Linked DNA regions of Homo sapiens. The protein of the gene in region 1 interacts with the protein of each later gene in a pairwise test. Each region holds a gene or a part of one and is shown on either strand. Other genes may lie near its edges.

What was found. Proteins that work in one complex are often made in the same cells at the same time.
Region 2: the proteins of INSRR (region 1) and CTDSP2 interact in a two-hybrid assay, tested with the Homo sapiens proteins (one study listed by BioGRID and IntAct).

The regions. Positions count from the first base shown.
Region 1 is NC_000001.11:156,842,118-156,845,617, forward strand, and holds part of INSRR (insulin receptor-related protein precursor), read right to left. Parts: intron 3,297-3,500; coding exon 3,255-3,296; intron 3,180-3,254; coding exon 2,959-3,179; intron 2,727-2,958; coding exon 2,590-2,726; intron 2,508-2,589; coding exon 2,345-2,507; intron 2,164-2,344; coding exon 2,058-2,163; intron 1,363-2,057; coding exon 1,310-1,362; intron 1,117-1,309; coding exon 887-1,116; intron 392-886; coding exon 281-391; intron 155-280; coding exon 1-154. UniProt on the Homo sapiens protein: Receptor with tyrosine-protein kinase activity. Functions as a pH sensing receptor which is activated by increased extracellular pH. Activates an intracellular signaling pathway that involves IRS1 and AKT1/PKB.
Region 2 is NC_000012.12:57,836,730-57,840,229, forward strand, and holds part of CTDSP2 (carboxy-terminal domain RNA polymerase II polypeptide A small phosphatase 2), read right to left. Parts: intron 486-3,500; exon of another isoform or gene 362-485; intron 1-361. UniProt on the Homo sapiens protein: Preferentially catalyzes the dephosphorylation of 'Ser-5' within the tandem 7 residue repeats in the C-terminal domain (CTD) of the largest RNA polymerase II subunit POLR2A.

The DNA.
Region 1 (3,500 bases):
TCTTGACGGTGAAGTCCTGGGACACCATGCAGTTGCGGGCTGCTAGATCTCGGTGCACAAACTTGTTGGCAGCAAGGTAGGCCATGCCGTCTGCAATCTCACCAGCCATTTGGATCATTTCCCCCAATGCTGGCTGTGGGAGCCCAGGGTTGTTCTAGAGCCAAGATTGGGGGCTGGTGAGGAAGGAACCCAGAGGCTGGTCTCCTGTCCAGAACTGGCCCCCACCTCCCACACTGTGCCCAACCCTTCTTTCACTCCCCAGGGTCTTCCTGGTCCCTACCTCTGCCTCAGGCCGCAAAGATCGAAGATGGCTCTTGAGGTCCCCACGGGTCATTAACTCCATGATGACCAGAGTTGGCTGGCCCTGAGATACCACACCCAGGAGACGCACCTGGGACAGACAAAGGGCCTAGCAGACCCCCTAGTTCCCCTTGACCCATTTGGCCAAAATTCTGATCTGCTATGACCACAGTCTGACTCAGACACCAAACCTGACCCTAACCCCAACCATGACTATAACCTGACTCCTGACCTAACAATGACCCTGACCCTAACCCATGACCTTCATCATATCTGATGATCATCACAGTCACGAACTTGGTCCAACTTTGGCCTTGAGCCCAATCAGGACTCTAATAATGATCTGGACACCCAATATTGAGCCCCAATCATGACTGATCTCAGCCCTAGCCATGACTCTACAGTGGCCCTACTATGACCCTGTTTGACTCTAACCCTAACCATGACCTTTACCCCAATTAGGATCCTAACCATGGTCCCAATCTTGACCTTAATGGTGCCCTAACCTCATCTCTGACCCTTTCTTTCTTACCACATGACCTTTACACTAATTATGACCCTGACAATGCCCTTGGCTCTCCCTTACCACATGGTGACACTTGAAGGCTTTCATGACAGAAGCTTCCTTGAGGAACTCAATGCATTCCCGTGGGCTGGCCAGCTCATTCACCGTCTTCAGGGCCACGGGTGTGGACTCCTCTCCAGCCTCAAGTCCTCGTGCCAGCCCCTCATATACCATCCCAAAAGAGCCCTGGCCCAGTTCCCGGATTATCGAGATCTGCTCCCGAGGCACCTCCCATTCATCAGGGACATACACTGCAAGGAGGTGGAGGGTCACAAAGCGAGGATGCTGCTCTCTGCCACACCTCACCCCCCAACTTCTCTTCTCCTCTTCTGAAGGGCTCTTGTCCCAAGGCTATCTTCTGCAAGAAGGTCTTCTGGAAGTCTGTCTCTGCTCCTCTCCTGTCTCCCTTTCCCACACCACCTGTCCACCCACTCCCAGACCTACTATCAGAGGCGCTGAAGTACTCTGGATTCACAGAAGCATACAGGGTTCTGTTTCTGCAACGGGAGGTGAGGGGGTCAGGCTGGAAGGGTTCTCAGGAAGGAATGAGCAACATCAGAAGAAGGAAGAAGGACATTTCAAGGAGGAGGGAAGTTACTGACCACACCCCCAGCCTTGGTCAGGGTGACTCCTGGGGATCCCTAAGTACCCTCCAAGTTGGCCTTGGCCCTATTCCTGGGATCTAACAGGGAATAGGGAGGACACAGGAGTAAAGGGGCTTCCGCCCTGTCAGCTAGTCCCTATAGCCAAGCTGATCGAGGTCCAGCCCCATTTTCCTCTTGCAGTCAGCCCTGGAAGGATCTGACATCAGGCATTCTGGAACACATCCCCAGGCCTCCTGCTTCTTCTCCTAATAAGGGACAGCTCTATTATTTTTCAGCTTGGGTGCACAAACTCTCACACCTGACAGGTGGTGTGAGAGTGTGGTGACCAACAATCCCAGTGTGGCTGGACTGAGAGGTTTCCTAGGATGTGCAACTTTTACTGATAAAACCAGGAAAGTCCCAGGCTAACCGGGATGAGTTGGTCACCCTAACTGAGAGGTATGTTTCCTCTGTGCCACCGCAGGGGAAGAGTTACTGCCTGTATGGAAGACCTGTCTTTCTACTGTCTCATCTACCTCCCTTTGACAGACTTTATGATGAGGGCTCAGGGAGAAAAGGGGGTGGGGACCGGTGGGACTTATCATCACCTCTTCTTGCCGTAGAAGAAACCAAGGGCAGCAAGAACGATGAGCAGCGTGAGCCCCACAGGGGTGGCAGTGAGGAGGACATGCAGCCCCCCAGCATCCTCCTCCTCTGGCAGTCAGAGGGCAGCAGAGGGTAGAGTCAAAGATGTAGAAGTCAGAGGGAAGGTCATGCTTCTCTTTCCATGCTGGGAGGTGAGGATGGGGAGGGATGCGGGGGAGGGGCCTGTGGTGGGCTGGGGACCAGGTAGGGCTGTTCGGTGATACAGGTCTGTGACAGAGGCTGTGTATACCTGGGCCAAGGATGTAGAAGGCAACACTGTCTGTCCAAGAGCCATTGCCAGCCAGTGAGGTTGCCCTAACCCTGGCAGAGTAGTTTCCAGGGGGCAGCAGGGCCAGGTGGACTCCCCCAAACTTCGCATATCGAAGACGGGACACACACAGCACTGTGGCCTCCTGAGAGTAACGCAGAACAGCTGGCTGGGAAGGCGATGTAGGCACAAAACGGGGCTGGGACGGGGGTCCCACGGGCACCTACCTCTCCCAAGCGGCGGTACTTGATTTCGTACTTGAGGATGAGTCCGTTGGGGTCTGGTGGCTCGAGCCAGCGCAGAAGGACACTGTTCTTGCTGGAGGCCTCCCAGGCCACCTTTCCTGGAATACCATCAGCCTCTCCTGCGGGAAGGGGCATCCAGCAGCCGGGCCAAAAGTGGTTCATCTCACCTTATGTTCAAACCCAAGCTAAACTGGGCTGAGCTGGGAGGTGGGGAAAGCTTTGGGATTATGGGAACTGAGAGGGGCAAGCAAAGCGAGGCTCTGGGGTTAGCGAGAAGTCAAACCCCAAACCTTTGCACAGGGTCCTTGGGGTCGGTGATGGGGGTAGAAGGTGTGTGTGTGGATCACCTACTGTGGGGCATGGTGCGCGCAAAGACGAAGGTGGCGGCGCTGCAGCCCACGGTGTGCGCCGCGTGGTTGCAGGCATGGATGTCGATCCGGTATTCCGTGAAGTGGCGCAGGCCGCTCAGCACCGCTCGCTCACGGGGCACCTTGTCCTCCTGGATCTCGAAATCCGAGCTGTTGCCCCCCAGCCGGAGGGGCCCAGCTGCCCGGCGGTGCCGCCCTGAGTCCCTGGGGAGAGCGAGTCAGAGCCAAGGCCCAGCCCCCAAAGCCACGCCCCTCAGCACCTGCCCTAGTCCTGCTCACCTTTGGGGGCTCTTGTTGATGGACGTCACCTTCCAAGGGGATCTGGGGAGGCCAGGAGTAGCCCTATCAGGCCTGTCCGGATGCACCCCTGTGCCCTCTGCAGCGCGTACCGCCTCCAAAAGCACCCACAACCCGGGACCCGCCCACACAAGCAAGGCCCCACCCACAAACCCCACCCCTCCCGCAAGACCCGCCCCTCACAGGCCCCACTCATCAGACCCTCCCAGGCCGCGCGCGCTCTTCGCA
Region 2 (3,500 bases), on another chromosome or scaffold:
TTTAATCTTCTCCTGAAAGTCAGGTCCAGATACCACTTTTGTCAACAACACAGCTTTGTGTCCCAGCAAAGGAACTCCTCACACATCTGCCTGCGATTCAGCAGAAGGTAACCTCTGAGACAATCAGATTTTAACAAGCCCATTCAGGTAGAAAGTTGCTTTCTTTTTTGGTTCATCCCCAGAAGTACTTCCTTCCCCACCACCTCCCATCCCCCACAGCAAAGGACTTAGCCTTAGCCTGGCTATCACTATAAAATGGCCCCTCTGAGGGGCCTCCTTCCTCTCAGCTATTGGAGGAAGGAGAGTATTTGGAGCATTTCCGGCCCTTCTTGGACGGCTGCCTGAACCCTGCAGCCAAGACACATTTGACTGGGACTCCCCCATGGAGAGAAGTCCTCCCAGGTCCTCTGCAAGGGGCATCTGTTCCTTGGCTATGGACATGCCCTAAAGTGCCAGGTGGACGGAAGAGCTCCTGGGACCAGCAGGTGAGTCGGCAGGGAACAAAAGAGGGTGAGATGCCTAGACAGCCCCCACACACAAAAGACTGCAAACAATGGGGAGGGTGTACTGCTTTCATGCCTGGCCACTGACACTGTTCTCTACAGCTAACAAGCAAGGCAGGGCCGGACCCAGCTTAGCACCGGCTCCCGAAGTTCCAAAAAGTAGCTGTGTATCTAACTGCATGGGCATTTTTTGAAAAAAGCAGTTTTAACACTTTGGGGGGCAAAGGCAGTGGGGATCACTTAAGGTCAGAAGTTCGAGACCAGCATGACCAATATGGTGAAACCCCATCTTTACTAAAAATGCAAAAATTAGCAGGGTATGGTAGTGAGCTCCTGTAATCCCAGCTACTCCGGAGGCTGAGGCACGAGAATCACTTGAATCCAAGAGGTGGAGGTTGCAGTGAGCCGAGATCACACCATTGCACTCCAGCCTGGGGGACAGAGCAAAACTCTGTCTCAAAATAAATAAATAAATAAATAAAATTTAAAAAATTAAAAAGCAGTTTTAGCCATGCTGTTTGGCCCATACCAGCATGTTGTATGCTGGTGCCCTCTCTGCACCAGCAACTGGGGCAGCTCTACCTAAGCCAGTGTCTCCATTAGTTCCCTTTCCCTGGGCAGGAGAGCTCCCTATATGGCTGTCTCTTCTTTCAGACCTGAGTCCTTAATGCCACCTGTGGGGCGAGGGTCACAGGTCACACACTTTCTTGTCTCTGCCCCTTCAGCAATCTGTTCTCTGACCTCAGCTAGAGAGGTAAGAGGACTCAGTTTTGGGAGCAGGGGATTTCTGGCAGTTCTAAAGCACGCTGATTTCAGAATCAGCCTCTAAAGGAGGTATTGCCAAAACACCCTCCTGGGCAGCTCCAACGTACTTTAAAAACGTGCTGGGTTGGGGTGGGCCTCCATAAGTAGCAGATCCTGGACCAGAGACAGAGGAGGCGTTTCCTCATAGACAAGTCAGCTGCAGGCTCAGCCCTGCAAGCCCCACTCCAGAGGACTCTTGAGGGATGTCAGGAAGTGATCTAATAGCCCACAGGGCAGCAGGGACAAGCCTGAGATGCCATCCAAGAAAACTCAAAGGACTGGATCCTGCCCCTGCCTCAGCAGGAGACCCTGCCCTATGTAGCACCAGCCAGAGCAAAGGTATCATTGTGAGGGATTGGAAACCACACTTGCCTACCTGGAGTTACCCCTCCTTCCCCCTAAGGAGGTGTATAACAAGCCCCTGTGGGAGGGGCTACACACAGACAACCTCTCAGTGAGTGTTTCAAGTTCCTGCCTTAGTGCTGTGCCCTTGACTCCTGGAATGCTTAGATATAGTTGAAGCCTAGGAAGAATCCACTGCTTCTTTCCCTTCCAGGTATGTAGGCCTGCTTTAGGTTGATACAAACGTGAGCTGGAGAAAGCAGTGAGGACACAGGACAAAGCAAGGGTATCTGTTCTGACCAGGGAAAAATACAGTGGTGACACAAGGCACCCAGACTTGAGTTCGAATCTAGGCTCTGCCATGTGTAAGGTATGCAGCCATGGGCCTCAGTTTCTTCATCTGCAAAATGGGAAGACTACCTATTTCTCAGTGTCAGAATTGCAGGGAGCTCAGGGAGTGTCCTGGTCCTAACAAAAGCTTTGTAAGTGTCAACTGCTACTCATTAAGTGCAAAGTACTTTCATACTCTTACCTCAGTCTCCATCTCAAAATGTTCACATTAAAGGGACCATAGAGATTTCTTCTAACTCATTTCAGAGGTAGTAACAGGGCCAAACCGGAAATGATGTTTTCCGGGACTCCACAAAAACGAATCAGTCGCACACACACATACACACTCATTGAGGCTGGCCAACCAGTTCCTCCTTCATATGGCTGGCCTCTGCAGAAGGAATGGAAGGAGTCTGCCAGGGAGGCACCCATCTCCAGGGACATTCTGCTGCTCCCCCCACACCCCTCAGCTTCACCTATGACCAGCCAAGCCGTATAGGTGAGTCCACTTGAGAAAGTACTGATCTAGAAGTCAGGAAACCCAGCTCTTGCTCCAGTTCAGCTTTTCAACAGTTCCGTGGCCTTGCTAGGGCACAATTCTCTGGGGTTCAGTTTCCTCATAAGCCAATCTGGAAAGGTTTCCCCTGCATGGTCCCTTAAAAGGTGGCTTCACCTGAAGCATGCACCTGAATCATGAACTCAAAAGCACTCTAAAAGGTGAAATGTTAGGCCGGGCACGGTGGCTCAAGCCTGTAATCCCAGCACTTTGGGAGGCCAAGGCGGGCGGATCATGAGGTCAGGAGATCAAGACCATCCTGGCTAACACAGTGAAACCGCGTCTCTACTAAAAATACAAAAAATTAGCCGGGCGTGGTGGCGGGCGCCTGTAGTCCCAGCTACTCAGGAGGCTGAGCCAGGAGAATGGCATAGACCCAGGAGGTGGAGCTTGCAGTGAGCTGAGATCGAGATCGCGCCACTGCACTCCAGCCTGGGCGACAGAGCAAGACTCCATCTCAAAAAAAAAAGTGAAATGCCAGACAATGCAAATGTCTGGCTGACACTAGCCATGTACCCTTGGGCAAAGTCCTTCCCTCTCCCTGTGAAAGTTTTCCTTATCTGTAAAGTGAGGTTAATTCCTCTTATTGGAAAGGAAAAGTTGTCAGGAGAACTAAGTGAGATACGAGATATAAAATGCTAGGAATAGTACCTTGCCTATGGCAAGTACTCTATAAATATTGGCTGTAACCATTACTGGGTAAACAAGGATGGATCATTACTCTGTCCATTTACTCTGAAAACTTTAGGACTCCCCTTGAAGAGCCACAGATCTTTAACATACAGTAAAACGGGACCACCAAGAGGAATTTTCCTGCTCGGGGCAAAACAGGCAGTTGGGGCCACTGCTGTGCCTACCTGGCTCTTCTCCAGGGGCACCTGTCAGAGCCACAAGGAGCATTTGGAACACATGCATGCCTGACCCACCTGCCCATGCGCTGATTCAGCAGATCCCAGGTGGGGGGT